Regions from separate parts of the Homo sapiens genome. Here region 1 is linked to region 2. The links come from fine-mapping of genetic effects on plasma protein levels. A gene starts in region 2. The other region holds a variant in brackets. All regions are shown on one strand. Distances are between the middles of the regions.

Region 1 (15,500 bases), 20 kb before region 2:
GGCAAGCAGCCAAACCCTTTTGCCAGTTACAGTAGCGGGCAGCCTCTCCCCTTCCCTGCCCAAGAAGAGTGTATTTTGGACTCCAAGATCCCTGCACTGGTCTGTGATTGAATCCAATAATTAGCTCCTCTGACTCTTCTGGACACCATGTTCTGCTGGGGTGGTCCCTGAAAGGACTTAAGCTCATTTGCAAATAATGGGTGTTAGGACACCTCAAAATCCGGAAGAGATCTTGTCTTACTCTTGACCTCTCCTCACTTAAACCAAGCCCTAGGTTGGACACTACATAAATGGAATTGGACCGGGTTTGAGGCTTAGAGAAATGAACGTTTAAATCATATAGCAGTTGCATTTACTGCAATATGATCAGATGATGCATTTTCAGAAAAGCATTACAGAGGACATAAGATTGGGGGGATTTTCAATGAGTGTTGCTTCTGTAACCTTCCAGTTTCCTCACAAGGAATATTTTGGGTTGGTGCAAGCCTACTAGATAGAGGAAATCCCACATGGGGTTTACCAAGTTTCTTACATTTGCAACATATCACCCTGATATGTTGTAAAAATGTGAAGCAATCTTCACCATCTTGATCTAATATCCAGGTTATAAACACAGTTTCTTACTACACAATTAGTACCATCTTCCTGCAGAAGCTATGTGAAACTGAGACAGCACACTTGCACAGTCCCATTGTGACAATGTAATAATGGCCAGTACCCAGTATGACAACATATAGAATTAGCTATTTACTGGGCTTCAAAGCCAAAGAGGAACTGAGCCCAGGAGATGGGCCAAGACCTCCCTCAATGTCCCGCAGGCACTTCACAAAAGCTACAAGAGAAGCTCTTGTAATCACTTAGAGAGGATGACACCCCCATAGATGTCAGTCAGCCTGTCTCCCTGGCCACCCTAGTGCTTGCTCAGGGGGCTCATGAACAAAGCACCATGTGACAGTGGTAGGGACTAAGCCTGGGGCCAATGACATGGACTTCCCACTTAGCAAGGCTGATTGGCCTATTGACACTTATGGTATACAGCAGTGTACTCCAGCAGTGAGCCTGCTAGCGTGATGGCCAATCTAAGCCCTGATATGGTGCCGTTAACCAGAGAAAATGAACCAGCTATCTGGTGACAGGTACATGAGACCCCTTCAAAAGCATGGAGGCAGGGGTGATTGGCCCTCACTGGAATAGATATTCTGAATTTGAATTTTATTTCCTTGCCTTCCATGCCTGTGCCAGTACTGGTACCCATGGATTTGTGGAATTTCTTAATCACAGTGACTGTATCCCATATAATATTGCTTCTAGAAAAGAACTCCTCATTCATTCATTCAATTAACATATATTTATTGAGTGCCTACTATATGCCAAACACAAAACGGACAAAACAATAATCTTTTCCTTTCCCCTTCTTGATCACAAACACTCTGAGTGGGGCAAAGATAATAAATATTATATTCAGGGTGGGGCCCAGAAAATAAACAATAAGCATAATATATAATTTAATTATATAGACTAATAGTAGTACAAGGTGCTATGGGGAAAAAGTGAGTAGAATAAGGGGAACTGGGGATGCAGAGGTTGCAGTTTTAATGAGGATGGTCATAGTGGGCCTTTTTGAGAAGGTTACACTTAAGCAAAGTCTTGAATGAGGTGAGTGAAGATTAACCATACAGACATCTAGGGAGAGTGCTACAGTAAAATAAAGAAAGAAAGGGCCTGTTATTCATGGGATTCACCAGTTTTATCCTGTTCTCCATCACCCAGAAGCAGCCAGACTTGTGGAATGGTGGGATGTCCTGCAGGTGTGACATTAACAACTTGGAAATAAAACTTCGAGTGGGTAAGGTTCTATCTCGCAGGATACTGTACATGCTCTCAATCAGCAACCAGCATATGGTGCTTTTTTTCCCACAGCCAGAATAAATGGATCAGAGCAACCAAAGCATATCTTGTTATTAAACATAATAACTGTGGTAGATTGAGTTACTGGCTCCAATTCATCACCCTCCCTATATCCACAATCAAAGAGTCTGCAGTTTCTTCCACTAGAGGCAGAGTATATTTCTCTGCCCCTTAACTTCGGGGTTGGTATGTGACTTATTTTGGCTAATGATGCTAACAGACATGATGAAAGCACAGACTTGGAATCTGTGCTTATCCTTCTACCAATCCTACGAGAATGTGTTTTTGTTTTGTTTTGAGACCAAGTTTTGCTTTTTTTTTTTTTTTTTTTTTTTTTTGAGACAGAGTCTTGCTCTGTCACCCAGGCTAGAGTGCAGTGGCGTGATCTCGGCTCACTGCAACCTCTACCTCCTGGGTTCAAGTAATTCTCCTGCCTCAGCCTCCCGAGTAGCTGGGATTACAGGTGCCCACCACCGCGCCCGGCTAATTTTTGTGTTTTTAGTACAGATGGGGTTTCACCATCTTGGCCAGGCTGGTCTCGAACTTCTGACCTCGTGACCCACCTGCCTCGGCCTCCCAAAGTGCTGAGATTATAGGCGTGAGCTACTGCGCCCAGCCTGAGACCGAGTTTCACTCTTGTCACCCAGGCTGGAGTGCAATGGCTTGATCTCCACTCACTGCAATTTCCGCCTCCTGGGTTCAAGTGATTCTCCTCCCTCAGCCTCCTGAGTAACTGGGATTACAGGCGTCCGCCACCATTCTTGGCTAATTTTTTTCATATTTTTAGTAAAGACAGGGTTTCACCATGTTGGCCAGGCTGGTCTGGAACTCCTGACCTCAGGTGACCCAGGGAATACATTTTATGGAACCTGCTGGTTCAAGAAGAACCAGCTGAGCCCAGCCTAGATCAGCTGAACCCCAGCAGACCCACAGATATGGGAGTGAGAGCGAATGATTGTTGCCTTAAGTCACTGAATTTTGAGTTGGCTTGTAATTCAGCATTACTATGATTATGTTAAATGTTGTGTCTCAGGGCTCTGCGGTGTTTTAGAAACCAAGGAAGGAATACTTCCAATAAGGGAAACAATAAAGGTTTGTTTAAGGAAGCCAAGATTTCTACCTGACAGTGTGGGGGGCCTCATACCACTGGATGAAGAGTTTTTTGTTGTTTGTTTTTTGAGACGGAGTCTCGCTCTGTCCCCCAGGCTGGAGTGCAGTGGCGCCATCTTGGCTCACTGCAACCTCTGCCTCCCGGGTTCAAGCAATTCTCCTGCCTCAGCCTCCCAGGTAGCTGGGATTACAGGCACGCACCACCACACCCAGCTAATTTTTTTGTATTTTAGTAGAGACGGGGTTTCACCATGTTGGCCAGGCTGGTCTCGAGCTCCTGACCTCGTGATCTGCCAGCCTTGGCCTCCCAAAGTGCTGGGATTACAGGTGTGAGCCCCCATGCCCAGCCTGAAGCATTTTTTTAAGCCAGCTTTTGCCTGCCCTGTTGCAGTGACCTACCTGCCCTCCCTGGTTCTGCATCTCCCCTGTAGTATTCACAACACAGCAGCCAGAAGGATCCTTTTCCAACTGAAGTCATATGTCACTCTTCTGCTCAAACTCCTCCAGTGGCTCCCAAATTTGCTCCAAATAAAAGGCAAAATCCTTGCAATGAGCCACAAGGCCCTTATTCTCTGTGCCCATGCTACCTCTCTGACTTCAACTCACCTCAGGCTCCTGACCACTCATTCACCCCAGCCATGCCAGCCTCCTGGATGATCCCCAACACCCTGAGAACACTCTGACCTCAGGTCCTTTGTTCTGGAACTCTCTTCTCTCTAAATTCCTCTTCTCATGGGTTGTCACGCAGCTCATGTCCTCCTTCACTGAGTTCACTACTTGAATAATACTTTAAGACCTTCCCTGACTACTTTGCAAAGTAATCACCCCCATCTCTACCCCACCCCCAGACTCACTATTCCTCTTACCTGTGTATTTCTCCATAACTTTTCCTCCACCTAACATGTTATATATGTGTTAGTTCATTTATTTATTGGCTATCCTCTCCACCGCACACACACACACACACACACACACACACACACTCTTTTCCTTCTATCAAATCCCCACCACCTAGAATAGAACACATAGTAAGTGCTTTATAAATATTGAATGAGTGAATGCCTCTGCTGATGTTGTTTCTGGGGCAGGACCTTCCCCTCCCTGACTGGTCTGTCTTTAGAACTTTATTTTCTAAGCTCCAGCTCACTCATGTAACTTCTTACTATCGCTCCAACCCCAAACCTGCACTTTCCTGCAGAGAAGATGTCTGTTTCCATGTAGGTATTACCATACATGGCTTCCTGGGCTGGGGATGGCCTTTAGAGGCATCTGCAAAGCAGTTTGCCATCGGAAATGGGAGAAAATAAGTGCGGGAAGAAGCCCTGCCCTGACGTCTGGAGGGGCAGCTGGGCTGAGTGGTTCTGTGAGGGGCCTTGAGGTTGGCTGTCCCATCTCGATCCACCTGTTTACTGGGATTCCTGGGCCCTGGGAGCTGTTCTCCTGGCCAAAACTAAGCTTTGCTGTGGTCTGCCTATATCAAGTGTGGCCCATCAAGGCCTGGAAGAGGGGGAAGAGACCAGTCTGGGACCCTGTCCTTTTTCCTTCCCCCTTTCCAATCACAAATCTTCAGAGTCCCCAACCTACAGCATTCACTTGGCTGCAAAAGTTGATCAAAGAATGATCGTAGGGCTTCCGCCTTGCCTGGCCCCCCTTGCACGCTGCAGGTCTGTGTCAAGCCATGGACACAGCTCTCTGTTCCGGAGGATGGAGTGTGTTAAAATTGTTAAGAGTAAGGCCTACTTTAAGAGATACAGATGACATTTAGAAGACCAGTGGGTTAAACTGATTACTATGCTCAGACACACTTGGTAATCCAGGATGAAAATAAGTAGAACACACCAAAATTCAGGATAGTTCATGCAACTAACAGAGAGATCATTTGTCATATGGTTTTTGCCCACACAGAAGGGAATATGATTGTCTGCACAGCATATGTTCATGAATGTCTAAAGTGTAGCATGAAGGTTGGCCAGCCAGATTATGATGCAGCACATTGTACTGGCCTGTGCTGACCCGAAGGCCCCTCAATAGTCTTGGCATGGACAACACCTATGAAGGTCAAGTGGAGGTGAGCAGAGATGGGTATCACATGGGAAGCATTGATGGTTACTTGGTGCCTTCACTTGCTACTTGCCAGAACTACCAACGGAAATAAAGGTAGGGGGGCCCTGAAGGGAGGTGTGGATTGAGGTTTTCTATCCCTCACAGTTACCAAACAATTCCCTGGTTCCAATTCAGAAAGCAGGGAGTTCAATGCAGAAGCACATCCTGGGTCAGAAGATCGCAGATTATATGCATTACCCAATGTAAGAAGATGAAGATGTTTACAAGAAACAATTTTCTCAATACATAAAGAACAACATAACTCCAGTCATGACGGAGAGACATGTAAGAAAGCTCATGATGCTGAACAAGAGAATCCAGTTCACGAGAGGAAGCCTGGGGAAGAAGTTAAGAAAAGGTGGAACCATCCCAAGACGTCCCCTGTCCAGAAGAAAGACTGAGTAGCTCAGAAGGCAAGTTTTCTAAGAGCTCAGGAGCAGGCTGCTGAGCGCTAAGCCAAACAACTATTTTCTTGTCTTTTCTTTTTCCTTTTTCTTTTTTTTTTTCAGAGACAGAGTCTCGCTCTGTCACCCAAGTCAGAGTGCAGTGGCACAATCATAGCTCACTGTAGCCTCCAACTCCTGGGCTCAAGCAATCCTCCCCCACTTGGCCTTCCAAGTACTTAGGAATATAGGCACGTTCCACCACGTCTGGCAAATAGTCATTTTCTATAAGATTATTCAGATAAAAACAATAAACTTATTGACCAAGCAGCTTAAAAAAGAAAATTAAAGGAAGGGTCTCAGCCAGAGGTTCTGCCTCGTCTAACCCACCCCTGCTTTCTTACCTGCCCCATCCCACCTCTCAGTCCTCCTTCCCTGGTAGCTTCTTCCTGTGCATTACTGAGATCCCTGGCAACTTCCACCTCATCTTCTGCAGGAGGCCTCTGGGCTAGGGACCCCTTGAAAAAGCTTTACCCCCTCTTAAGCTTCTGGTGGAGGGCCTGAGGTCCCATCTCCTTTGGACCCCTGCTCAGGGTCCCCTGTGCAGTCTTCTTACTCAGTAAAACCTCAACTGCCAGGTCTGACTTTTCACCATTAGCATTTTATTTCTTGAGTTAAATCAGGGGTAGCAAATCTATCTATCAACCCCAATCAATGGGCAGCTGTAGCAGCTGCCTGGAGCCCTGTGCTGAGGGCTCTGTGGCCACACATGGGCTAATGGAAAGGAGCAGCAATCATGTGATATGGGTGCTGGTGGAAGAAATGATGGCATGTGGACACCTTTGCCATCCCTGGGTTAGACATCACCCTGCCTGGGCCACTCTTTCAGAATGCAAACCTGTAGAAGGACAGGAGAAAGTGGAGCTAGTGGTAGTCACACACCGAGTTCCCAGCAACTCTTCCCAACCCATCACTGGATGCCTCTGTTTCTGCCTAAAAGGTTGGGGAGCCCCGAGCATGGACAAAAATAGAAATCAGAAAGTGGGGAGCTGGGAAAATCTACACTGCCATCTCTGGCCAAGGGGCTATCATATGCACAAAGCATCCCCACTCCCACCAGGAGGCTCTATCAGTTTGTGCCCCTGGGAGTGAATGGAGATGCCCTGGGGCCTTGTCTGGTCCCTGGTCCCTGGTCCCACAAGAAGATGAGGAAGATAAAGCCTGATAGACACCAAGCCAGGCTGGCCAGATATTCCAGACAATGTCACTGAAACTTTCCAGATCTCTCATGTTCCACGGTGGGTAGAGAAGGGAAGGACATGAAGGCTGTTCCTGGGGGGCCAGAGTCACTGACATTACTCCCTTATTCTCCTTCTCCCTCACCCCAAAGGATAAGCATACACCCCAGGATTAAAGTAAGAAATCATTGTGTCAGAGGCCTTCCAACCAGAGTGACTCCATCTTGAATAGGGGCTGGATAAAATAAGGGTGAGACCTGCTTGGCTACATTCCCAGAGGGTTAGGCATTCTTAGTCACAGGATGAGATAGGAGGTTGGCACAAGATACAGGTCACAGACCCTGCTAATAAATCAGGATGTGGTAAAGAACCCAGCCGAAACCCACTGAAACCAAGATGGCAATGAAAGTGACCTCTGGTCATCCTCAATGCTTATTCTATGCTAATCATAATGCATTAGCATGCTAAAAGACACTCCTATCAGTGCCATGACAATTTACAAACACCATGGCAACACTCAGAAGTTATCCTATATAGACTAAAAAGGGGAGGGATCCTCAGTTCTGGGAAATCTCTTCCCCTCTCCATGAAAACTCATGAATAATCCACCCGTTTTAGCATATAATCAAGAAATAACCATAAAAATCTTGAACCAGCAACCCTTGGGGCTGCTCTGCCCATGGAGTAGCCACTCTTTTTCCCTTTCCTTTACTTTCTTAATAAACTTGCTTTCTCACTTTACTCTACGGACTTGCTTTGATTTCTTTCTTGTGTGAGATCTGAGAACCCTCTCTTGGGGTCTGGATCCGGACTCCTTTCTGGTAACATCTTCCTGGCCACCATGAAGCGACTATACTGAAGAGACTTCTGACCCAAAGAAAAAGACTGCAGCACCAATTGGCCAACTCTGGATATGTGGTGGGGTACGTTTTACCTGGGTAAAGGATGGGATTGGGTTAGAAGCCCAACTTAGGAGAGTTAGAGTCCCTCCTAAGACAAAGAGGCTTAAAGGCCCCTGTTAATAAAAAGCAACGACGCTTGACCAAACCTGGGTTAAAGGCTTAACTTAGAAAAATTAGAGTCCCTTCTAAGCCATAGGGGGTGGCTGGGCGCGGTGGCTCATGCCTGTAATCCCAGCACTTTGGGAGGCCGAGGCGGGTGGATCACCTGAGGTCAGGAGTTCGAGACCAGCCTGGCCAACATGGTAACCCCACCTCTACTAAAAATACAAAATTAGCCGGGTGTGGTGGTATGTGCCTGTAATCCCAGCTACTCGGGAGGCTGAGGCAGGAGAATTGCTTGAACCTGGGAGGCAGAGGTTGTAGTGAGCCGAGATCGCACCACTGCACTCCAGCCTGGGCGACAGAGTGAAACTCCATCACAAACAAACAAACAAACAAACAAACAAAAATCCTGGCCGGCGCGGTGGCTCACGCCTATAATCCCAGCACATTGGGAGGCCAAGGCGGTGCGTCAGGAGATCAAGACCATCCTGGCTAACACCGTGAAACCCCGTCTCTACTAAAAATACAAAAAATTAGCCGGGCGTGGTGGTGGGCACCTGTAGTCCCAGTTACTCTGGAGGCTGAGGCAGGAGAATGACGTGAACCCGGGAGGCGGAGGTTGCAGTGAGCCGAGACTGCGCCACTGCACTCCAGCCTGGGCGACAGAGCGAGACTCTGTCTCAAAAAAAAAAAAAAGTATTTACCTTACATACAGGTAATGCGTGTATAAACACATACGCAAATAACACCTCTGAGGCCCGCAGGTCACTGCCACCTCTAACGGCCCCATTGGACTGTGAATTCCAGTGGGCCCAGCCATTCTCCCTCAGCCATGACTGGATCCGCAGGTCCCAACACAAGCCTCTCATCCAGCAGGCGCTCAACAAACACTCAAGTAACCCATCAGGCCCAGTTTTTGGAGAAGCCTGGGACTCACCTTGAGGGAAAGGATGTCCTCTGCGCGGATGACGAACTCGTCCTGCTCACGGAAAATGCCCTCTCCGCCACTCTCGTCAGCCTTCTAGTCCGTCTCTCCACACACGGCCGCCGTCTCCTGCTTCTTGGCCAGGTGCAGAGGCCAGGTGTCCGGCAGCTCAGCGTCCTCGGGGGATGGGGGGCGGGCTCCCCTGGAGGGGCAGCCGGTGGGGCAGCGGCTGGCGGGGGTGGCAGTGGAGGCGAAGGCATAGCTGGTGGAGGTGGCAGCGGTGGTGGCGGTGGTGAGCTGGACGTGGGGGCCACCAGCGGGGGTGGTGAGGGCAGGGCTGGCTGTGGCGGCGGAGCGGGTGGGAGAGGCTGAGGAGTCGGGGCTGGAGGTGGAGTGGGTGGAGATTTCTTCTCCAGCAGAGGGGGCTCTTTCTGTATTTTGTAAATTTTTCTTTCTGTATTTTTCTGTCATAAAAAGGGGTACCTTAGGATGAAGCACAACTCCAGCCTGGGCAACACAGCAAAAAACTCCATCTCAAAAAGAAGAAAGAGAGAAAGAGAAAAAAAGAAAGAAAAGAGAAAGACAGTGGTTAGAAAGAAAAGAGAAAGACAGTGGGTCAGAGGTCCCCCTCAGTAACATCCCTCTTGGTTAGAAATGGATTTGGCACTATGAAATGTTAACTGCTATTCTCTGGATTAATCTGCCTTGCACTGTTTGCTGATGGCTACAGGTGACTGGATTAGGCATGTACAGGATCTTGGAACATGGGGAACTTTTTTCTCCCCAGAGGGGGCAACTTGAGAGCTGATGGGACTGCTGGAAAAGATCCCTTTGTGACTGACAAGTACCTGCCTGAACTTTTGATTCAGTGTTGCTGCAATGGGTGGGTATTCCTCTGGTCTCCCTGAGCTCCCCGCTTCCCCACCCTGCCTCAGACCAGGCTTCTCTCTCTTACTCTCTCTTTCTCTCCTTTTCTTTTCCTATCGTTTCTGTTACTTGAGACTACCTGCTCTTCCATCTTGCCCAGAGACCACATGTTGAAATTCCGGGTCGGAGGTCACTCCACCCCACTTTGAATGGATTAAAGATGACAAGGCCCAACCGGGGGCAAGTTTGAGCCTTGCCAGTTAGATATTGGGTGCTAAGCAGAGCGGCTAATGTCTATGTTTTGTCACACGTATTTTGCTCTGGCTGGAATGGAAAATGTTCATTTGGTTACCCCATGCAACCCACTGGGCAGCATCTTACAAAATTGAGATTTTTTTTTTTTTAATTTTGTGTTGCAGCTTGGCCTCCAGGGCTATGATGCAGCAAGTAGATTCGCTAGGGCCACTCAGGGAAAGGGAACCCAGAAACCTGGCATGCCAGCAAAAGGGTAAGAATTTCTTACCAGTCAGACTTCTGGCCTCTCTCTGTGCGCGCCGACTGTAGGAATGGTAAAAATCACTGCCTCCTCTGCAAAGTTTCAATTAATGAAACAAAAGCCTTCATGTGGCTAGTATTAAGCTGTAGCAAATCTGGTGTAATTTGTGCTATGAATTTGTCTTTCTGTATTTTTCTGTCATAAAGAGAGGTACCTTAGGATAGAATATGGGCTTAGGACCCGGTAAGCTTGCTGTTCAAGCCAGTCCGGCACACTGGTCAGTTACAAACTTTGCGGCAGGTCCCTGAAACAAACAAAAAACTGACTGAAGTTTTCCCCTTGTCTTATGCCCTTGGAAGCTTG[ACCT/T]TGTAACCATATGGTGGTATACCTTCTTAGTCTCCAGCATCCAGAGGACAGGAATTTTGAGGTTCACGTCATAGCCCTAAAAATTGTCTTGAGCAGTTAAAAGCCTTTGCAAGCTCAAAATTGGCTGCCTCTAGGGTCCTTCTAAGAAAAGAAATGGAAACTGCCCAATGCTGAAGCTTAGTAGCTAAGGTTTTGTCTTTTCACAATGGCAGCCCACATTCAGGGTTCAATTCCCAGCTCAGGGAATTAGTCCTTTCTAGTTTGATATCTACGTGAGCTTTGCCATTTGTTGATTCTCTGCCCCTCCTTGAACAACATCTGGCTTTCCTTTTTGAATTTTCCCTTCTCTAAGCTGCCTTTGTAGATTCTAAATCTTGTAAAAACTGCTTACCACCTGTTTGAAAATACTTCGTACACCTGTGGTTAAGTCACAACCTTAGTTAAGGCTTATTGGTTTCACCTGGGAGATTACCTTTGGTAAAGTTTAAAGGCCATAAATATTGGCTGTTTGTCCCGGCTAGAGTCTGGTAATAAGAGATTTTGTTAAAAGTTAGCTTAATTAAAAGCAGATATCCAAGCTATACGTATATTTAAAAGGTCTTTATGTTTTTTTCTCTTCTTGGATCTTATGAAGAAAAAAGTATTTTTTTTTACCAGGGGAAAACAAGACAAGGGGAAAAAAAAGGTATTTTTTTTTTCACAGTCAACTGAATTGTTTCTCTGTTTTGCCTTCTTGCCACTCTTGATGCACATGTGAGAGGACCTAAGATAATTTCTAATAGCCTTGGACTCCTTGAGAAAAACAGAGGAGGTGCCACAGACCCCGTTTTAGGGAAAACATCTGTTTTCCTCATTAAGACCCAGGGATTGGAAGCAGATAGATCTCTCTCAAAAGCTAAGGCTCTGTTCTGTTTTGCATTGCGTTATTTGACATTTTTTACTTTTTAGAGTATCAGAAATTACTTCACATTATGAGTGAGCTTTGGTGTGTAATAACTAGGTAGCAAATATACTTTTGGGCATGGCCAGTGGCAGTTATGGCGGGATACTTGGCTCTCTGCACGTTTGGATCAGAGAGGCGTGCTCTCAGCCACCTGGAAGGTATGGAAACATCCCCATCCCCCACCCCACCACTGAGATAAGGCTTCCGTGGGGGATAGGCTGATCACAGAATGGGCTGATTGACTCTGGGTTGTCTTGCAATGAAACTCACAGTAAGATCATTCATTGTCTTGTTCTGTAGTATTTCTTTTTTGGGAATTGAGGATCCGGTATAAAAATAGGACCCTGAATTTTGGGGGATCTGTTTTGCTTTCCATCTGTATCTGCTTATTAAGCCCTAGAAACGGCATGTTTTCCTAACCCTGTTCCTCAAAGGACCCCACCCTGAAGCCAGTAATCCAATTAAGAAACTTAAAAACTGCCAAATGAAAAATCGTAACAACTACTGGATCTTCTGCTGTCTGTATATTTATATGTGTTGTGTGTGTGACATTTATATATGAAGGAGCTCTGATTAATTGGCTTAAAAATAAGCGCTTAAATATTTTGTCAGGAAAATAAAAACTAATGCCTTTTAGTTCACGTGACTTTAGTAAGCTTTGGAAGGACAGTTTAAAAAATTATTGGTAAAATAAAGACATTTGGTCTAAATTAGGTCAGATAATTAGGTTTGCTAAACGCTTTAAGATCATGAACTGCTTCTTTGACTTTTGAAAAGTCAAAGAAGAGCTATTCTTTGAGCTATTAGATTCTAGGTAAGGCCTGTGGACATGCGGAGTTAGGGATGCCCCCTCACTATGATGGAAGGATAACTTATCTGCATTTTTGTCTCGTATCTTAGGCTCCACACCTGCTACAAAATTAAAAATCACTCACTTATCAGGTTTTTCAGCAACAACAAAAGTTTCTAAGAGTTAACAGTGTAACATGCAATGGAGACTACTACAGAAACGTTTTACATGCAAGGTGTGTCAGGAAAGTGAAATGTGTTTTTGGTAAAAGATTATAAGAAGGCATGGAAATGTGGGAGTTTTTTGGCTACACTAGTTTAGAGGGTTAAAGGTTTTAACTAAGATAGCATAAAGCTGAAGGTTTGAGCAAGTTGTGATAGGTTTGTGAAAGATTAATCTGGTAAAAGAAATTTTATATGTGAACATATTGGCTAAAGCTAAAGTGACATTATTCAGTTTTTCTGTAAATTGAACATTGGAATAAAAGCACAAAAGGATTTCCTTGGAGCACTGATCTGCTCTTTAACAAAAATTGTAAAGGGTCATAAGATTTATAAGAATCTTACCTTAGGGTCAAACATTAAAATTGAAGAGATTTGTCTAAGGTTCTACTAAGAATTGGGTTTGATATTAATAGTACACTAATGCAAAGGTGAAATTTGGCTTTCTCTTGAACAAGATTTTCCATGAATAAAGTTTTTTGCCTTTTTAAAATTTTTGAGTTATTTTGGCTAGATGACTTATGGTGGCCTATGATTCTCTTCTATAATATCAAGTGTTTTAAACCTTTGATAGTAACAAACTTTCCAAAACCAAATTATAAATTATGTCTTTTTCTGACCTAATTAATCTTATAGCTATTAGGTCCCCTAAAGTCCAAAAATGACATATTTGGCTTATTTGGTATAAAAATCATACAGGAAGCATTGTCAAATATGAAATGGTGTTTGGCTTTCTTTGGGCTGTATTTGTATAAATATGTTATTAGTATATGTTCCAAAATTACTGGAAAGTCCTGTAATTCTGATATGGCTTAGTGTATGTAATTAATAATTATAATTGTTGTGTAAAATTGTATGCCACAGAAGTAACCAAAATTGTCAAATGTGGCTTTAGTAGTGGCTGTCCTAAGACTTTTTGTCACCCACAATTATTGTCTTGTTTTGATTCTCTTCAAAAGGTGGTTTATAATCAGCTATAGGACTTTGACAGGTGCTCTTGAATGCAGGTTTCTGATACCTTTGGAGATTGTGACATTAGAATCGAGGAAAAAACTTTCAGGACTCTCATGGAGAGCTGAAATGTTTATGAATATCAAGCAGAACAGGTGTTAACTGCATAGACTGAACTAATAGAAGACTAAAATAACCCTTCTATGACTTTTTACTTAAAACATTGCTGATCTTTGTTTTTCAGAGCCAAGAAAACTTTTATTTGTAACTTTAAAAAATAAAAATAAGATGCAGTCTCTCTCTGTTGCCCAGGCTGGAGTGCAGTCGTGTGACCTGAGCTCATTCCACCTCCACCTTCCGGGTTCAAGCAGTTCTCCTGCCTCAGCCTCCCAAGTAGCTGGGATTACAGGTGCATGCCACCATGCCTGGCTAATTTTTGTATTTTTAGTAGAAATGGGGTTTGGCCATGTTGGCCAGGCTGGTCTCAAACTCCTGATCTCAGGTGAGCCACCCGCCTCGGCCTCCCAAAGTGCTGGGATTACAGGCGTGAGCCACTGCACCCGGCCCAGTGATCATTTTAGAGAGACAGTTTAACCACTACCTGACCATCACCTGATCGTCACCTGACATTCCTGGGCGTGTGAGGGGGGAGCCCTCTCCTGTCCTGCTCATGTCTAACTACCTACTCTAACAGATGGAAAGAGATGATAGAGATAGGGAGTGGGGAGAGAAGTAGAAGGGGACACTATGGAGAGAGAGGAAAGTACATAGAGAGAGGGGCATTAAGAGAGGGAGTATGGAGAGGGGGAGGATGGAGAGGAAGGAATAGAGGAGAGAGAAAGAGAATAGAGTGAGGCATAGAGGGGGAATAGAAAGGAAAAGAGGAAGAAATAGAGAAGGGAGAGAGAAAGGATTGAGAGCTGGGGATACATATCTGAAAAGAAACCCAAGAAACTGAGAACATTTTTTGTCTTTATAGAAAACAACTTGGTGGCTGGGGTGGAAGGTGGAGACAGGGGATAAAGGGTGAAAGACACTTTTCATTGTATATCTTTTTTTAATCTTTTGAGTTTGGATGCATATGACTATATTACTTATATAAAATAAAACTTTGACTTAAAGTATCAACAAGAGAGGATCCTGGATTGCCATCTTTCTGTGTGGCCACTGGCAAGTAACCTCATGGAGTCCAGGTCTATGACAGGGGTATGTTGTTAACTGCTCTGGGGATTGTTTTGAGGACCCAGAGGATCTCATAAGCAAACCTCCCAGCACCGTGTCTGGCACCTGGTGCATGCTGCTGCTTATCAGCACCCCCAGCAATGAATCTGAGTGACTTTGGAAGCACCCCACCACCTGTCTGAGCCTCGTTTTTCTCATCCATCCTCCTGGAGGAATAATGACCAGATTCATAGGGTTGATGCAGGGATCCACCAGGAGAATGCTAACACCTACCAGATGATCCTTCTCTGGACTTCATGCCTGGATGATCTGGTCACACCCTTAACACTTGCCCACCCACCTCAACCCAAGTCAGGGGAGACAGAGACAGAACGTGCTGAAAGTGGTTACTTTATTGGTTGGGAAAGGGAGAAGCTGTGGTCAGCCCAAGAGGGAATACAGAGTCCCGAAAAAGGGGAGGGCAGGTGGGCTGGAACCAGATGCAGGGCCAGGCAGAAACTTTCTCTCCTCACTGCTCAGCCTGGTGGTGGCTGGAGCTGGAGGAAGAAAATTATAACAATACCATCAACAACAATATCCATTAGACTAGGCAGGAGTACCTGCAGCTTAAATCCTAGACCAGCTCCTTGACCCCACCCCATCCCACACACCCACACAGCAAAGCCTCACCTTCTGGGGGCTCTGCTTGCATTTTCTACAGGTTCTAGACATACTCTTCTCCTTCAGACCATCCCTAGCAGGTACCTGGGTATACTGTGGTCAGACCATCCCTAGCAGGCACCTGGGTATACTGTGGTCCCAGATGTCCACTGTGGCCTTCCTGAGGGGTCATGGCCATTTCTCTCCCCAAGAATCCTTCTACTATTAGGAAGTTCTGCCATGCCTTCTTCTTTAGGTTAAAATGGGATTATCTGATCAATTAGATCTTATTTAGCTACATTTTATAAGCGAGATAACTGTGACTCAGGGAGGTGAGAAGGTTAGGTAAGTGTCAGAGCTAACATTTGAACCAA
Region 2 (15,500 bases):
CAAATGCTGAGGGATTTTTCTCATCAACAGGCCTGCCTTACAAGGTCTCCTGAAAGGAGCACTAAACATAGAAAGGAACAACTGGAATCAGCAACTGCAAAAACATACCAAATTGTAAAGACCATCGACACTATGAAGAAACTGCATCAACTAATAGACAAAATAACCAGCTAGCATCATAATGACAGGATCAAACTCACACATAACAATATTAACCTTAAATGTAAACAGGCTAAATGCCCCAGTTAAAAGACAAAGACTGGCAAATTGGATAAAGAGTCAAGACCCATTGGTGTGCTGTATTCAGGAGACCCATCTCAAGTGCAAAGACACATAGGCTCAAAATAAAGGGATAGAGGAATATTTACCAAGCAAATGGAAAGCAAAAAAAAATCAGGGGTTGCAATTCTATTCTCTGATAAAACAGACTTTAAACCAACAAAGATCAAAAGAGACAAAGAAGGGCATTACACAATGGTAAAGGGATCAATGCAACAAGAAGAGCTAATTATGCTAAATATATATGCACCTAATACAGGAGCACCCTGATTCATAAAGCAAGTTCTTAGAGACCTACAAAGAGACTTAGACTCCGACATAATAATAGTGGGAAACTTTAACCCCCACTGTCAATATTAGACAGATCAATGAGACGGAAAATTAACAAAGATATCCAAGACTTGAACTCAGCTCTGGACCAAGCAGACCTAATAGACATCTACAGAACTCTCCACCCCAAATCAACAGAATATACATTCTCCTCAGCACCACATCACACTTATTCTAAAACTGACCACATAATTGGAAGTAAAACACTAATTAGCAAATGCAAAAGAACGGAAATCCTAACAGTCTCTCAGACCACAGTGCCATCAAATTAGAATTCAGGATTAAGAAACTCACTCAAGACCGCATAACCTTACATGGAAACTGAACAACCTGCTCCTGAATGACTACTAGGTAAATAACAAAATCAAGGCAGAAATAAATAAGTTCTTTGAAACCAATGAGAACAAAGACATAACATACCAGAATCTCTGAGACACAGCTAAAGCAGTGCTTAGAAGGAAATTTATAGCACTAAATGCCCACAAGGGAAAGCAGGAAAGATCCAAAATTGACACCCTAACATCACAATTAAAAGAACTAGAAAAGCAAGAACAAACAAATTCAAAAGCTAGCAGAAGACAAGAAATAACTAAGATCAGAGAGAACTAAAGGAGATAGAGACATGAAAAACCCTTCAAAAAAAATCAATGAATTCACAAGCTGGGTTTTTGAAAAACATCAACAAAATAGTCTGACTGCTAGCCATACTAATAAAGAAAAGAGAGAAGAATCAAATAGACACAATAAAAAATGACAAAGGGGATATCACCACTGATCCCACAGAAATACAATCTACCATCAGAGAATACTATAAACACCTCTACGCAAATAAACTAGAAAACCTAGAAGAAATGGATAAATTCCTGGACACATACACCCTCCCAAGTCTAAACCAGGAAGAAGTCGAATCCCTGAATCGACCAATAACAAGTTCCAAAATTGAGGCAGTAATTAATAGCCTACCAACCAAAAAAAGTCTGGGACCAGACAGATTCACAGCCGAATTCCACCAGAGGTACAAAGAGGAGTTGCTGGTACCATTCCTTCTGAAACTATTCCAAACAATAGAAAAAGAGAGCCTCCTCCCTAATTCATTTTATGAGGCCAGCATCATCCTGATACTAAAACCTGGCAGAGACACAATAACAAAAAAATTTCAGGTTAATATCCCTGATGAACATCAGTGCGAAAATCCTTAATAAAATGCTGGCAAACCAAATCCAGCAGCACATCAAAAAGCTTATCCACCATGATCAAGTTGGCTTTGTCCCTGGGATGCAAGGCTGGTTCAACATACACAAATCAATAAACGTAATCCATCACATAAGCAAAATCAATGACAAAAACCACATGATTATCTCAATAGATGCAGAAAAGGCCTTTGATAAAATTCAACACCCTTCATGCTAAAACACTCAATAAACTAGGTATTGATGGAAGGTATCTCAAAGTAACAAGAGCTATTTATGACAAACCCACAGCCAATATCATACTGAATGGGCAAAAGCTGGAAGCATTCCCTTTGAAAACCGGCACAAGACAAGCATGCTCTCTCTCACCACCCCTATTCAACATAGCATTAGAAATTCTGGCCAGGGCAATCAGTCAAGAGAAAGAAATAAAGGGTATTCAATTAGGAAAAGAGGAAGTCAAATTGTCCCTGTTTGCAGATGAAATGATTGTATATTTAGAAAACCCCATTATCTCAGCCCAAAATCTCCTTAAGCTGATAAGAAACTGCAGTAAAGTCTCAGGATACAAATCAATGTACAAAAATCACAAGTATTCCTATACACCAATAATAGACAGAGAGCCAAATCATGAGTGAATTCCCATTCACAATTGCTACAAAGAGAATAAAATACCTAGGAATACAACTTACAAGGGAGGTGAAGGACCTCTTCAAGGAGAACTACAAACCACTGCTCAACGAAATAAGAGAGGATACAAACAAATGGAAAAACAATCCATGCTCATGGATAAGAAGAATCAATATCGTGAAAATGGCTATACTGCCCAAAGTAATTTATAGATTCAATGCTATCCCCATCAAGCTATCACTGACTTTCTTCACAGAATTAGAAAAAACGACTTTAAATTTCATATGGAACCAAATAAAAGCCCACATAGCCAAGACAATCCTAAGCAAAAAGAACAAAGCTGGAAGCATCACGCTAACTGACTTCAAGCTATACTACAAGGCTACAGTAACCAAAACAGCATGGTACTGGTACCAAAACAGATATATAGACCAACAGAACAGAACAGAGGCCTCAGAAATAACACTACACATCTACAGCCACCTGATCTTTGACAAACATGGCAAAAACAAGCAATGGGGAAAGGATTCCCTATTTAATAAATGGTGTTGGGAAAACTGGCTAGCCATATGCAGAAAACTGAAACTGGACCCCTTTCCTTACACCTTATGCAAAAATTAACTCAAGATGGATTAAAGACTTAAATGTAAGACCTAAAACCATAAAAACCCTAGAAGAAAACCTAGGCAATACCATTCAGGACATAGGCATGGGCAAAGACTTCATGACTAAAACACCAAAAGCAATGGCAACAAAAGCCAAAATTGACAAATGGGATCCAATTAAACTACAGAGCTTCTGCACAGCAAAAGAAACTATCATCAGAGTGAACAGGCAGCCTACAGAATGGGAGAAAATTTTTGCACTCTATCCATCTGACAAAGGGCTAATATACAGAATCTACAAGAACTCAAACAAATTTACGAGAAAAAAACCCCATTAGAACGTGGGCGAAGGATATGAACAGATGCTTCTCAAAAGAAGACATTTATGCAGCCAACAAACATGAAAAATGCTCATCATCACTGGTCATTAGAGAAATGCAAATCAAAACCACAATGAGATAACATCTCACACCAGTTAGAATGGAGATCCTTAAAAAGTCAGGAAACAACAGATGCTGGAGAGGATGTGGAGAAATAGGAATGCTTTTACACTGTTCGTGGGAGTGTAAATTAGTTCAACCATTGTGGAAGAGAGTGTGGCCATTCCTCAAGGATCTAGAACAAGAAATACCATTTGACCCAGCAATCCCATTACTGGGTATATACCCAAAGGATTATAAATCATTCTACAATAAAGACACATGCACACATAGGTTTATTGCAGCACTGTTCACAATAGCAAAGACTTGGAACCAACGCAAATGCCCAAGACACATGCACACATAGGTTTATTGCAGCACTGTTCACAATAGCAAAGACTTGGAACCAACCCAAATGCCCATCAGTGATGGACTGGATAAAGGAAATGTGGCACGTCTACACCATGGAATACTATGCAGCCATAACAAATGATGAGTTCATGTCCTTTGCAGAGACATGGATGAAGCTGGAAACCATCATTCTCAGCAAACTAACACAAGAACAGAAAACCAAATACCGCATGTTCTCACTCATAAGTAGGAGTTGAACAATGAGAACACATGGACACAGGGAGGGGAACATCACACACCAGGGCCTGTCGGGGGGTTGGGAATTAGGGGAGGCATAGCATTAGGAGAAACACCTAATGTAGATGACGGGTTGATGGGTGAAGCAAACCACCATGGCACATGTATACCTATGTAACAAACCTGCACGTTCTGCACGTGTACCCCAGAACTTAAAGCATAAATACAAAAAAAAATGTTGTTAAGTTGCCAACAGTCTTGACTTCCTAATACAAAGAAATTCATTCTCTTGAAAGGAGTAGGAACCTGTAATATTGGGCTGCCCTGGAAATAAATAGGGAACCATTTATGATCAAAACAAGCCACTGTGTATGGAGTATCTTCTCACTAATAGACACTTTAGATGCATTATTTCATTTAGTCCTCATGCCAATCCTATAGAGTTTGGAATTATTCCCATCTTAGAGCAGAGGCTCAGAGAGGTAAACAACATGCTCAGGATCACATAACTAGAAAATGGCAGAACTAGGATTCAAACCTCCAGGCTGCCTCCCTGGCTCAGGAGGCCATCTGACCTTGTCCCTCTTCCTGCCTCAGTCTGTCCATCTGAGATAAGGGAACAAATTCTTCATCCATCAAACAGCAAAGACTCCCTCCTTTGCTCCTCCACCTCTCTCATCTGGCTGCTGCCTGCTTTCTCTCCAAATCTTCCTCTCTCCTTCTGGTCCTCCTCTCCCTGGCCCAGAGGAGGGGACTCATGACCTTGAAGCTGCCCTTGGTGGGCTGCCAGTCCCCCTCCACTTACCACCTCCCTGCTGATCGGTGTCTTGGGTCACCGTATTACAAACCTTCCCAGCCTGTGCTGGCATCTTCAAGGAAATAACAGAGAGGAAAAGTCACAGGGGCTGTATTCTGGATAAAGAACATCATTACAGTACCTTGGTTCTCTCCAGGTCCTATCCCTGCCTCTAATCCTCAGCATTTTCCTCTGGAGAACGGAAAGCTGAGATTCCATGCTGTTTAAGCCACCCCCTGTTCTGATAGCCTGGTGGAGACTGCAGCTCCAGCAAGCACCTTTGAGAGAGTCCCCAGCTCGCGCTCACTCAATCCTTAGAGTGGAAGAGATTGACTGAAAGACGACGAAGGGCGATACAGTGTCCAGGGAGGATTCCTCACTTTCTTCGAATCACTCAGCCAGTTGGCCTGAAAGGCAAAAGCTGAACCCTCACTATGACTCCAGCAGCCATGGGATGGCGGTGTGACCTTGGGCAAGAACATTTTTTTCTCACCGATGCTCCCTTACACATCTTTAAGATGAGCGGGGCATTTTCCTAAATCTGTAAAGTTCCTTTCCGCCTGGACAGAGGAATTGGGGAAAATCTTGCCAGGCCAGGCTCTCCCAGTCTTTCCCCAGGGCTGGGGGAGGCCCCCAGGGAGGGACTCCAAGAGGAGAGGTGAGCGCCCCAGGCTCCGGGCTTTCCCGCAGGGCAGGCTTCGGCCGGTTCGAGAAGGAAACTGCGGCCCCGGGTCCCCAGGCCGCGGGGAACAATGTCCCGGCTGTGCGTGCCCGGAAGCCCGTCATGCACCAGAGACTCGAATCCCAGCTAGGGGTGGGGACCCCCCCTTGGCTGCGTTTCAACGACGCCTTTGTCTACCCCTGGGCCGTGCGAGGGAGAGGACTGACGGATCTGGTTTCAACCGCCTTGACTTTCCCGGGGGTCCCCGGGTCCGGGGGCGCCCCTGTTCCCGGAACCCGGGCCCTCCCACCTCCTCCCAGCCCAGCGCGGCCCCGCCCCGTTCCCGCTCGGCCGCCGTGGGGTTACCATTGGGCAGAGAGCAGAAGGTGGCACAGCCCGCGCTGCAGCACTTGAGGTTGTCGGCGCATTCGCTGTCCGAGACGCACTCTTGCGTGCAGTTCTGGTCAGCCTGGAGCTCGGGGCACACGCCAGTCTTCTCTGCTCCTGTGCCTGGGAGGGGAGGCCCGGGACAGTCGAGGGTGGGGCGTAGCGCCAGCCCCAGAGGATGCCCACCTCCTGCTCCAAACCTTAACCCCAAGGAATTCTCAGTCTCTGGCCCTAGGAGTCCCCTTACAGCCCCCAGAGACTCCTTCTTCCAGACCAGGAGTCCCTGACCCCTGGGAGTACGAGAGCTCCCTAACCCTTGGCGTCGGGGCCCTCAGATCTCAGCCCTAGGGGACGCCGCACAGCTGAGCGTCTCGGAGCTTCCGAGGTCGAGGCAGAGCAGCCCCCACCCCCAGCCCACTGCAGCCACGGAGTGTCCGCGTTCAGCACAGAATCCTCCCAAATTGCAGCCATCAGTGGTCTCTCCACCTCCAGCACATTGGACCCCACACCCTAGGCTCCAAGGGTCCCCGCCACTTCCGCCCCCGGAATTCCCACTTCCCCAGCCTCCAGAGGCTACGCCTCCGCCTGGCTCCATCCTGGCGCTCGTGGCTCGGCCCCTCTAGGCGCCGGGCCTCTCCCCGCCCCACTCACCTGAGACTAGGGTGAAGCCGAACAGCAGCAGGCTGAGGAGGAGGGCGGCGGCTAGCGGGCCTAGGCGACAAGCAGGCATGGTGCTATGCCCGGGCGGGGTGCAGGTGTGAGCCGATGCTCAGGTGCGGGGATTTAACCGCGCGCGCGGGAGGGGGCGTGGGGTAGGGGTGGAGCCGAGCGGGGAAGGGGAGGGTGGAGGGCTTTGCGGGCACCGCGGGCGGGCTGCCACATGAGGTCATTTCACAATCCCCCAGGATCAGGTATCACTCTTGGCCCCGGTGGGAACCAGGAACTTAAGCAGCTTCCAGGACGGGACCAGCTACGGCCGGACCCTTGTCCACGCCTCCCTCCTGACCTCCCTCCTGGGGCCTGAGGGCCAAGGCTCAGGGCTCCTGGGTTTCTATTCCAAGACTCCGAGGTTTCTCCAGAGTGTCCCCAGTGGGCGGTTGAGGAGGATAAGGCAGGGCCCGCAGGGAGGCAGTAGAGCATGCGGGTTAAAGGGTTCGATTTGGGGTCAGCCAGATGAGAGGGCAGATCCCTCTTGATGGAGGGCTAGGGTAGTGATACAGAGCACATAGTAGGGGCTACAGAAATAGCACTTATTATTAATAAACAAACCCTCCTCATCAGAAACAGGCCCAGGAAGGTGAAGCACCTAGCAGTCTCAAGCCGTTTGGGTGTGTGTTTCTGTCTCCCTCTCTTTGTCCTACCGGCCCCTGATCAGGGCTGACTGTGCCAGGCTCTGTGCTCCTTGTCTCAAGGAATTGTCGCCGGTCCTCTGACCGGGGAGTTACTGTTATCAGCTGTATATGACAAAGGAACTGAGTGTTTAGGGATTTAGGACCGCACCTCCACCACAAGGTCCCCTGCAAAGCTGTACAAATAAGGTTTTGAACCCAGGTCTCTCCCTCCAGGCCCTTGTTTTTTCCATTCCGTCGTAAATATTCACTGGGTGCCTACTGTGTGACATATGCAGGGCAAGACGCTTGGTGAAGAGAAAGTCGTCAAAAGGGGCCCTCCAGCACTGGTCTTGAAGGGGTGACAGGGTCTGGGGTCTGACTCCCACCTCCACCACTTCCCACCTGAGGGCCCTGGAATGAATCCTTTCCTGGATCTGAGCTGCCACATCATCAGTGAAAATGACACCTATATGGGACTTCAGTGAGAACACAAATGCAACGTTCCTGCCACGGAACAACCATGTACTCACTGGGAGCATTGAGAGTAGATCCACACTGATTGACACAGGGACTCCAGGCCTGACCCATGATAGGTACTGGATACATGGCCATGAGTGCTCCACAGATAAGTGTCTCCTGTGACGAAGGAGACCAATAAGTATAAATGAAGCTTTAGAATCCAGGGGGTTAAGTGCCAAAACAGAGTTACCCAGGGAGTTAGACAAGAAGTGCTTCCTGCTCCAATGATCTGAGGTTCTAGAAGCCCCAGGAGGTCTTTGCTGCTGGAGGCTAGAGGGGCCCTGGGGCAGTGAACACTGGGATGATAGTGACAGGTGAGTAGGGTTTGGTGATGTGAGTACATCTGGCCACTGTCCCCAAAATGGATGCTGAGAACACCTCCCCCAGCTTCTCATGCTCAACTTGGGGACTGGGGACGTTATTGGGAGGGGCCAGGGCTATTTACTCTGAGCTCAGTCAACAATGAGGGCAGGAGCCAGGTGGGAACACAGCCCATAACAGGCTAGTGAAACCCAGTCTAGGGCACAAAGAGAACACTGGGGTGAGCAGCCAGTTTTTAGCCCGTGGACCCAGCTGGCTACTGTACATTCAGCCCCAGGCACTGCTGCCAACAGCTTTCTTCCGGGCCCTATTCAGCTCCCTGGGCCAGGAAACTGCCCAGCCTTGCTCCTCCCAGGCCCTTATGAGCACCCTATTGATTGGCTCTCTCTTACAGGAATACAGACTGAGGGAGAGTGGCAGGGCCAGGCAGAAGGATGGGGAAGGAATTTTCATCAGTCAATGGCATCAGATGTTTAGCTTTTGTGGTGCCAAGTTCCGTGCTAGGTATAGTTATAGATATTCTCTTTACATCATTTAAAAGGGCAGAGGCTTTAGAACCAAATGCATCCATGCCCAATCAGGGACAATGCATCCATGGCCACTTTCTGGCTATGTGACTTAGAGAAACACTTCATGTTTTGGGCCTGCATCTTCTTCCTGCATAAACTGTGTATCATCCTAACAGTCTTGGATGATTATTATAAGGGTTTTATAAGATTATTATAAGGGTTAAAGGAAAAAGCATAAATCAGAGGTTGCAAATCTGGCTAGAGCACATACATTATTAACTACACAGTATGTTTTAAATTTTTAAATTAGTTGCCAAGATTTAAAAGTAGCGAATTTCATATAAAAATAAACCTCTAGCTTCTCTTGGAAAAAGTAAAAGATCTGGCAACACAGTCCTGCAATCTTAGATATAACAACCATCAGCTAGAGCAGCAGGTCTCAAAATTGAGCATGCGTCAGAATCATTTTTTTTGTTGTTTTTGTTTTTTTGAGACTGAGTTTTGCTCTGTCCCCCAGGCTTCCCTCCCCTCCCCTCCCCTCCCATCTCCTCCCCTTCCCTTCCCTTCCCCTGCCTCCTGGGTTCAAGCGATTCTCCTGCCTCAGTCTCCCAAGTAGCTGCGATTACAGGCGCCACTACACCCGGCTAATTTTTGTATTTTTAGTAGGGACGGGGTTTCACCATGTTGGCCAGGTTGGTCTCGAACTCCTGACCTCAGGTGATCTGCCCGCCTTGGCCTCTCAAAGTGCTGGGATTACAGGTGTGAGCCACAGTGCCCAGCCTAAGCATGCATCAGAATCACTTGGAAGGCTTATTAAAATACAGATTGCAGGATCCCCATCCCCAGAGTTTTGATTAGTAGGTCTGGAACCTGAGAATTTGCATTTCTAACAGGTTTCCAGGTGATGCCAATGCTGCAGGGCTAGGGACCATACTTTGAAAACCAGAACCTAAGTACAGCTACTCTTTTTCTATGAGGGAAGCATTCCCTCCAGTTTCCCATAATCCCCACCACCACCATCCTCCCTCTCTGCAACTAGTTCCATTCACAGTGCTCACCTGACCCCAGGAGGACATTTAAATTTGTGACCTCTGGAGTGGGCACATAGTAAGTGTTTGGTGAAAGATAGCTTATATGTATTTAGCAATCTTATGGATTAAGTATTATTACTCCCATTTTACACGTTAAGAAACTGAGATTCAGCTAAGCAAAGTGACTTGCTGGAGGAAACACAGCCAGTAAATCAGAGGGAAGACTCTTGCCAAATTACTTGTGTTGTCCCAGTTATTTCAATATTATACACATTCACACAGATCTATCTGAGGTTAACGTAGATGATGCATCCAAAGTTTTGGACTTGACTTCATGAGTGTAAAAAAATATATATCAGGGAAGAGGAGGAAGAAAAGAAGCAGAAAGGAAAGAAGGAAAAGTTTATAGTGGTAGATGATGTCAATTAGCTGTAGACATGCCCACTCTAAAATGACTGTAAACAAGTTAACGGTGAAGATTTAAGAAGTTTCCAGGAACAAAAAAGGTGCCTTTAACCATGCAATGGGCCTCTCCTTTTAGACTTTTGGACTCAGTCAAACTTCCTTTCATTCCATGGAAACCTCTCTCTTTGGATATATTGACTATTTTGTTTTGTCACCTAGCATTCATTTGTCCTTTTTCTGATAAATCACCCTGAGTTTGCTTTGGAGGAAATAACTTCCTCCAGACCAAGACAGGTGGGGCCAGGGAGACTGTCAATTAATGTGTCTGCCCTACCCCCAGGCAGAGTGGCCAATCAAATACTGTTCCTAGAACTGTAATCTTGAGCAATGAATGATAAAAGACCTGAAAATTTATGGAGCTAACTCAGAGGTGTCCTGGGAAGAACTCAGTTCTGACTTTACCATTCTTTCCAAGCTGTGTTCTTTTAGCCTTTCCTTCAGTTCTGAGAGCTAAACTGAATCAATTAGTGCTATTGGGTGCAAGCAGTAAAATTCAACTCTGGCTAACTTAGAGATATTATTAGGAAAGGAGAATGGATGCCGACTACATCCCATTTTTATAAATTTCTTCTCTGTTTACAACAGCCAGAGTTGGTTTCTGTTGCTAGTAACCAAAGAGATCTTACTCCCTATACCAGTGTAACCACCAAGTTCCTCATTTCCAAATCCAGTGGACTTCTCTCAGCTCTCATTCTCTTCTAACTCACAGTTAAGATCCTTGTGGCATACATGCAATAATGTTCAAACCAAATCCTCATTAAAAAAAAAAAATACACATGGTCTCTGCACAAAAACCCATGAAAAGCAGAGCTTGTCTATTTGAAGTGGCTCAGGTCCAGCCCTAAACCAAATAATCTTCCTAGAACAGTGCACTTGTCGAGTTAATTCCTTGACTGTAAATTCTACTGGATCTTCACTGCCTTCAGGATAAAGGCTGAACTCCTTAGCCTGCCTTTTTGACTGATACCAACTTTTATTTCCAGCTACATTACTTACTTCATGCTGCACAAACCTTCCCTGGGCTCATTGTCTCATCAAACATTCCTTGATCAAGCTCACCCCAAGAGTCTTCTTTATCAACAGCTGAGACTTGAATGATGTGTAACATCTATCTACAACATCATCTGGGGCTGAGCATTACCAAAAAAGGTTAAAGCAAGTCCAAAGATCCTAAGGCAGGAAGAAGCCTGATGAATGCCAAGAAGAGTAAGAGAACCAGTATAGCTGGAGCAGAGTTAAAATCAAGGGAGATGAAATCAAAGAGCTAGGCAAGAACAAGATCATGAAGGACCCTGAAGGCTATGAAAAGCAACATATCTTTTATGTGCAATGGGAAGCCATGGGCTAGTAAAAGCTGGGAGATTGGGGGACAAAATCATCTGATTTATAATTTTTGAAAATCCCTCTGGCAGCTCTGAAGAATGCATTGTAAGAGGACAGCTATGGAAACTGGACTAGTAGTAAGAGGATTTTTGCAGTTGTCTTAGCAAAGCATTGATAGTAGTGGTTCCTTTTATTAGGCAAAAGATCATGAATTACTGGGTACTGGTCAGTCCATCACATCGGGAGACAGGTCTGATTTATTAGACTTTCCACCCTAAGATAAAGTCACAGGGAGAAGCTGTGAGGTTGTAGCAGTAAAAAAGGAGGCTTAGCAAAAACTAGCTCTATTTTGCCCCAAACTCCTACCCCACTCCTGTGGTGACATATTTTAGGTTAACTGCTTTTGCTCATTTCTACACATAGGCTGAGCTAACTATGGGAGAAATTTAGTTTATAGTTTAAAGCAAGGTTGCTAATAGTCCCTTCCCCAAATTAACCCCAGAGGAGATAAGGAGGGTGTATACACAAGTAACAATATTGTGTTAAAGATGATTTATAGGAGCATTGTGACCTGACCAAGGACAAAGAAGTTTCACCACACCCCCTTGGACCCTCACTGCCACCCAGATGTCTGTGATCCTTGATCACCTCTTGATCTCAAACCCCTTTCTCTTCCCCTTCCCAACATAAAAAGAGCCTACAATTCTATTAACTTAGGATGTTTCTTTAGGACATTAGTTCACCATCTTCTCAGTTTGTTGGCTTTCTGAAATAAAGTTGCCTTCAGTACCCCAATACCTTGTCTCTCAACTTATTGAATGTCATGCAGTGAGTAGTATGAGCTTGGACTCATTTCCATGGTTACTAATTCGTCTACTAGCAGGATGACAACCCAATTTTTCTGGTCCTTCCTAGGATGGAAAGGATGGGTACCCACAACTGCCATGAAAGCCATATTCATCCCAAAGGGAAGCATGAGACCCATGAGATTTTCCTACCCTGAGGCCAAGAGTGTTGTAGCAGTTTTTAAACATGTCAACAGTTGTTTTATACCCCTCTATATTCGTCACTTCTCACACTGCTATAAATACCTGAGACTGCATAATTTATGGAGACATAGGTTTAATTGACTCATGGTTCTTCATGGCTGGGGAGGAAACTTATAATCATAGCAGAAACTTACAATCATGGAAACTTACAATCACGACAGAAGGGGAATCAGACACCTTCTTCACAAGGCAGCAGGAAAGAGAAGAGTGAACGAAGGAAGAACTTCCAAATACTTATAAAAACATCAGATCTCGTGAGAACTCACTCGCTATCATGAGAACAGCATGGGGGAAACCACCCCCATGATTAAATCACTTCCCAACATGTTCCTCCCTTAACACCTGGGGATTACAATTCAAGATGAGATTTGGATAGAGACACAAAGCTAAACCATATCACCTTCCTATAGAGAAGTGGGGTTTGTATCTCATTCCTTGAATCTGAGTTGGTCTGTGATTGCTTCAACCAAGAGAGTCTAGTAGATGTAATGCTATATGGTTTCCAAGGCTAGATCATAAATGATGGTGCAATTTCTACCCTTTTAACTGGAACACTAGCTCTTGGAGCCCTGAGCTGCCATGGAAGAAGCCTGACTATCCTGAGACTGCCTTGTTGTAAGGAAGCCCAAGGCACATAGAGAGGCCACATGTAGGCGCTACAGTTAGCAATCCCAGCTGAGCCCAGGCTTTCAGTCATGCCAGCCCAGGTGCTAGCCATGTGAATGAAGAAGGCACCAGCTGATTCCAGCTCCCAGTCATCGCGTCACCCCCAGCTGTTTGAGTCTTCCCGGCTGAGGCCTGAGGCATCATGGAACAGAAATGAACCATTCTCATGTTTGTGTCCTGTTTAAAATTCTGACCCATAGAATCCATGAGTCTAATGAAATGATTCTATTTTACACCAGCTTTAGGATGGTTTGCTGTCATGCAGCAATAGGTAACTGGAGCAGGCGAAGATTGTTGGTGAGGTTCTTTATAACCCTGTTGGACCCGTGGGGGGACTATACAGAATTAGAACAGGCTGTAAATTACTGAGGTTAACCCACAGAAATCAATCTGTAACAGAATTGAAGAAGAAACAAGCAAGTAGTTTCATTATTTGTCAAATTGCCCCTACTACCCATCCCATAAGAACTGGTAAGAGCCTGAGATTTGGAGTCAAGAAGAGATCATTTGAGTCCCAATTCTATCACTTCCTAGTTCTGAGACCCTGGGCAGTTATTTCACCTCTCTGAGCCTCAGTTTTTAAATTTACAATATGAAGATATTTCTTGCCTCATTAGCTCAACATAGATTAAGAGAGAATATTTTGCAAAGCAATCCTAGGATTTCTGTAACAAAATACCACCAACTGGGTGGCTTAAACAACAGAAATTTATTCTCTCACAGTTTGGGGGGTCAGAAGTCCAAGATTAGAGTGTCAGCAGGGTGGGTGCATTCTGAGGGTTGTGATGAAGAATCTGTTCCATGCCCCTCCCTTAGCTTCTGGAAGTTTTTCTGGCAATCCTTGCTGTTCCTTAGCTTGTAGGAGCATCACCCCGGTTTCTGCCTTCATCTTCCCACAATTTTCTACCTATATGTGTGTCTCTTTAAATTTTCTCTTTTTCTAAGACACTTGGACACACACATTTAAGGCAGCACAATTAGCAATTGCGAAAGTATGGAACCAGCCTAAATGCCCATTGACCAATGAGTGGATAAAGAAAATATGTGGCATATATACACAATGGAATACGACTCAGCCAGAAAAAGGAACAAAATAATGGCATTTGCAGCAACCCGGATGGAGTTAGAGACTATTATTCTAAGTGAAGTAATTTAGGGATGGAAAACCAAATATCGTATGTTCTTACTTATAAGTGGGAGCTAAGCTAAGATAATACAAAAGCATAAGAATGATATAATGGACTCAGGGACTTGGGGGGAAGGGGCAAGGGGATGAGGGACAAAAGACTACACATTGGGTACAGTGTACACTGCTCGGGTGATGGGTGCGCCAAAAAATCTCAGAAATTACCACCAAAGAACTTATCCATGTAACAAAAAAACCCCTGCTCCCCAAAAACGATTTAAATTAAAAAATTTTTAAAATACATAAAATAAAATAGTCTCTCTGAGTGTGTCAGTTATATTTGATTAGGGATCACCCTATAACCTCATTTCAACTTGATTGCTTATGTAGACTCTATCTCCAAATAAGGCCACATTCCAAGGTACTGGATTTCAACATATGAATTTGAGGGGACACAATTCCACCCGTAAGAGAGAGTAAAAATATTGCTCTGTGTTCTGAGCTGAAAATGATTCCACAGGTTCTTTCACAGCTTTATTTCTTGTAAAGGGTTACAGCCAGGGCTGGCCCAGCTCCCTTTTCCTCTCCTAGCAGCAGCTTTGATCCTTTCTGATGAATGAAGGGAGAAAGGTGCCCTTAGGCCAGTCCTGCTAACAATGTTCTCTGCAAGTACATAGGTCTTGCCTCCAGTTCTCTGCCTCCTACCAAATGGCTTACCCAACAGAGTTACTCATAACGCTACCAGCAATTAGTTACATCTCTGTTTTTTCCATTGGCCTGTGGTCTCCCCCAAGAACAGGGACCAAGGTTGATTCATAGTAGTGAATAGCAGAGTCCATCTCCTGCCATGATTCTCAACTTCCACACTCTCAAATCAGACTCCCTCAAACACTGATGTTTGCCAAACCTGGTCCTTAGTACAAGCCTGCAGGTGTCTAACCAGCATTTGTGAGTACCCACTGCATACCCATACACTGCCAAACAGAGGCCAACATAGTGAAACCTCATCTTTACTAAAAATATAAAAATTAGCCAGGTGTGGTGGTGGGCACCTGTAATCCCAGCTACTCAGGAGGCCGAGACAGGAGAATCTCTTGAACCTGGGAGTCAGAAGTTGCAGTGAGCTGAGATCGTGCCTCTCCACTCCAGACTGCATGACAGAGCAAGACTCCAACTTGGGGGAAAAAAAGGCACATCATCTTTGGCACATTTTTTATATATAAAATTATAGGCACTTGACCTTGGTGCCCACTCAGGGCTCTTCCAAGTGTATTT

Which allele goes with the higher level. Alleles are on the strand shown, and positions count from the first base shown. The strength of an association depends on the size of the effect and on how common the allele is.
For the plasma level of the protein whose gene starts at base 6,644 in region 2, allele T in region 1 goes with a lower level than allele ACCT (moderate association).

The links. A credible set is the group of variants that fine-mapping cannot tell apart. PIP is the chance, under the fine-mapping model, that this variant and not a neighbour inherited with it causes the effect. The UK Biobank Pharma Proteomics Project read protein levels with antibody pairs (Olink). The fine-mapping took linkage between variants from a reference panel, not from the people measured, so its PIPs are less certain.
Region 1: its variant is the best candidate, but not a certain one, in a credible set for the plasma level of the WFDC2 protein (UK Biobank, PIP 0.72).

The regions. Positions count from the first base shown.
Region 1 is chr20:45,480,894-45,496,393 of GRCh38, reverse strand. It overlaps LOC107987282 (a long non-coding RNA gene), which reads right to left and starts at 8,782. Exons shown (of 4, transcript XR_001754641.3): 1 at 8,684-8,782. It overlaps WFDC2 (WAP four-disulfide core domain 2), which reads right to left. Exons shown (of 4, transcript NM_006103.4): 4 at 14,862-15,023. It also overlaps the pseudogene RPL5P2. The variant ACCT/T (reference allele first, on the strand shown) is at 10,398.
Region 2 is chr20:45,460,897-45,476,396 of GRCh38, reverse strand. WFDC2 (WAP four-disulfide core domain 2) reads right to left here and starts at 6,644. Exons shown (of 4, transcript NM_006103.4): 1 at 6,537-6,644; 2 at 5,865-6,008. The coding sequence starts at 6,615. RefSeq lists silencers at 5,720-5,769, 5,790-5,979.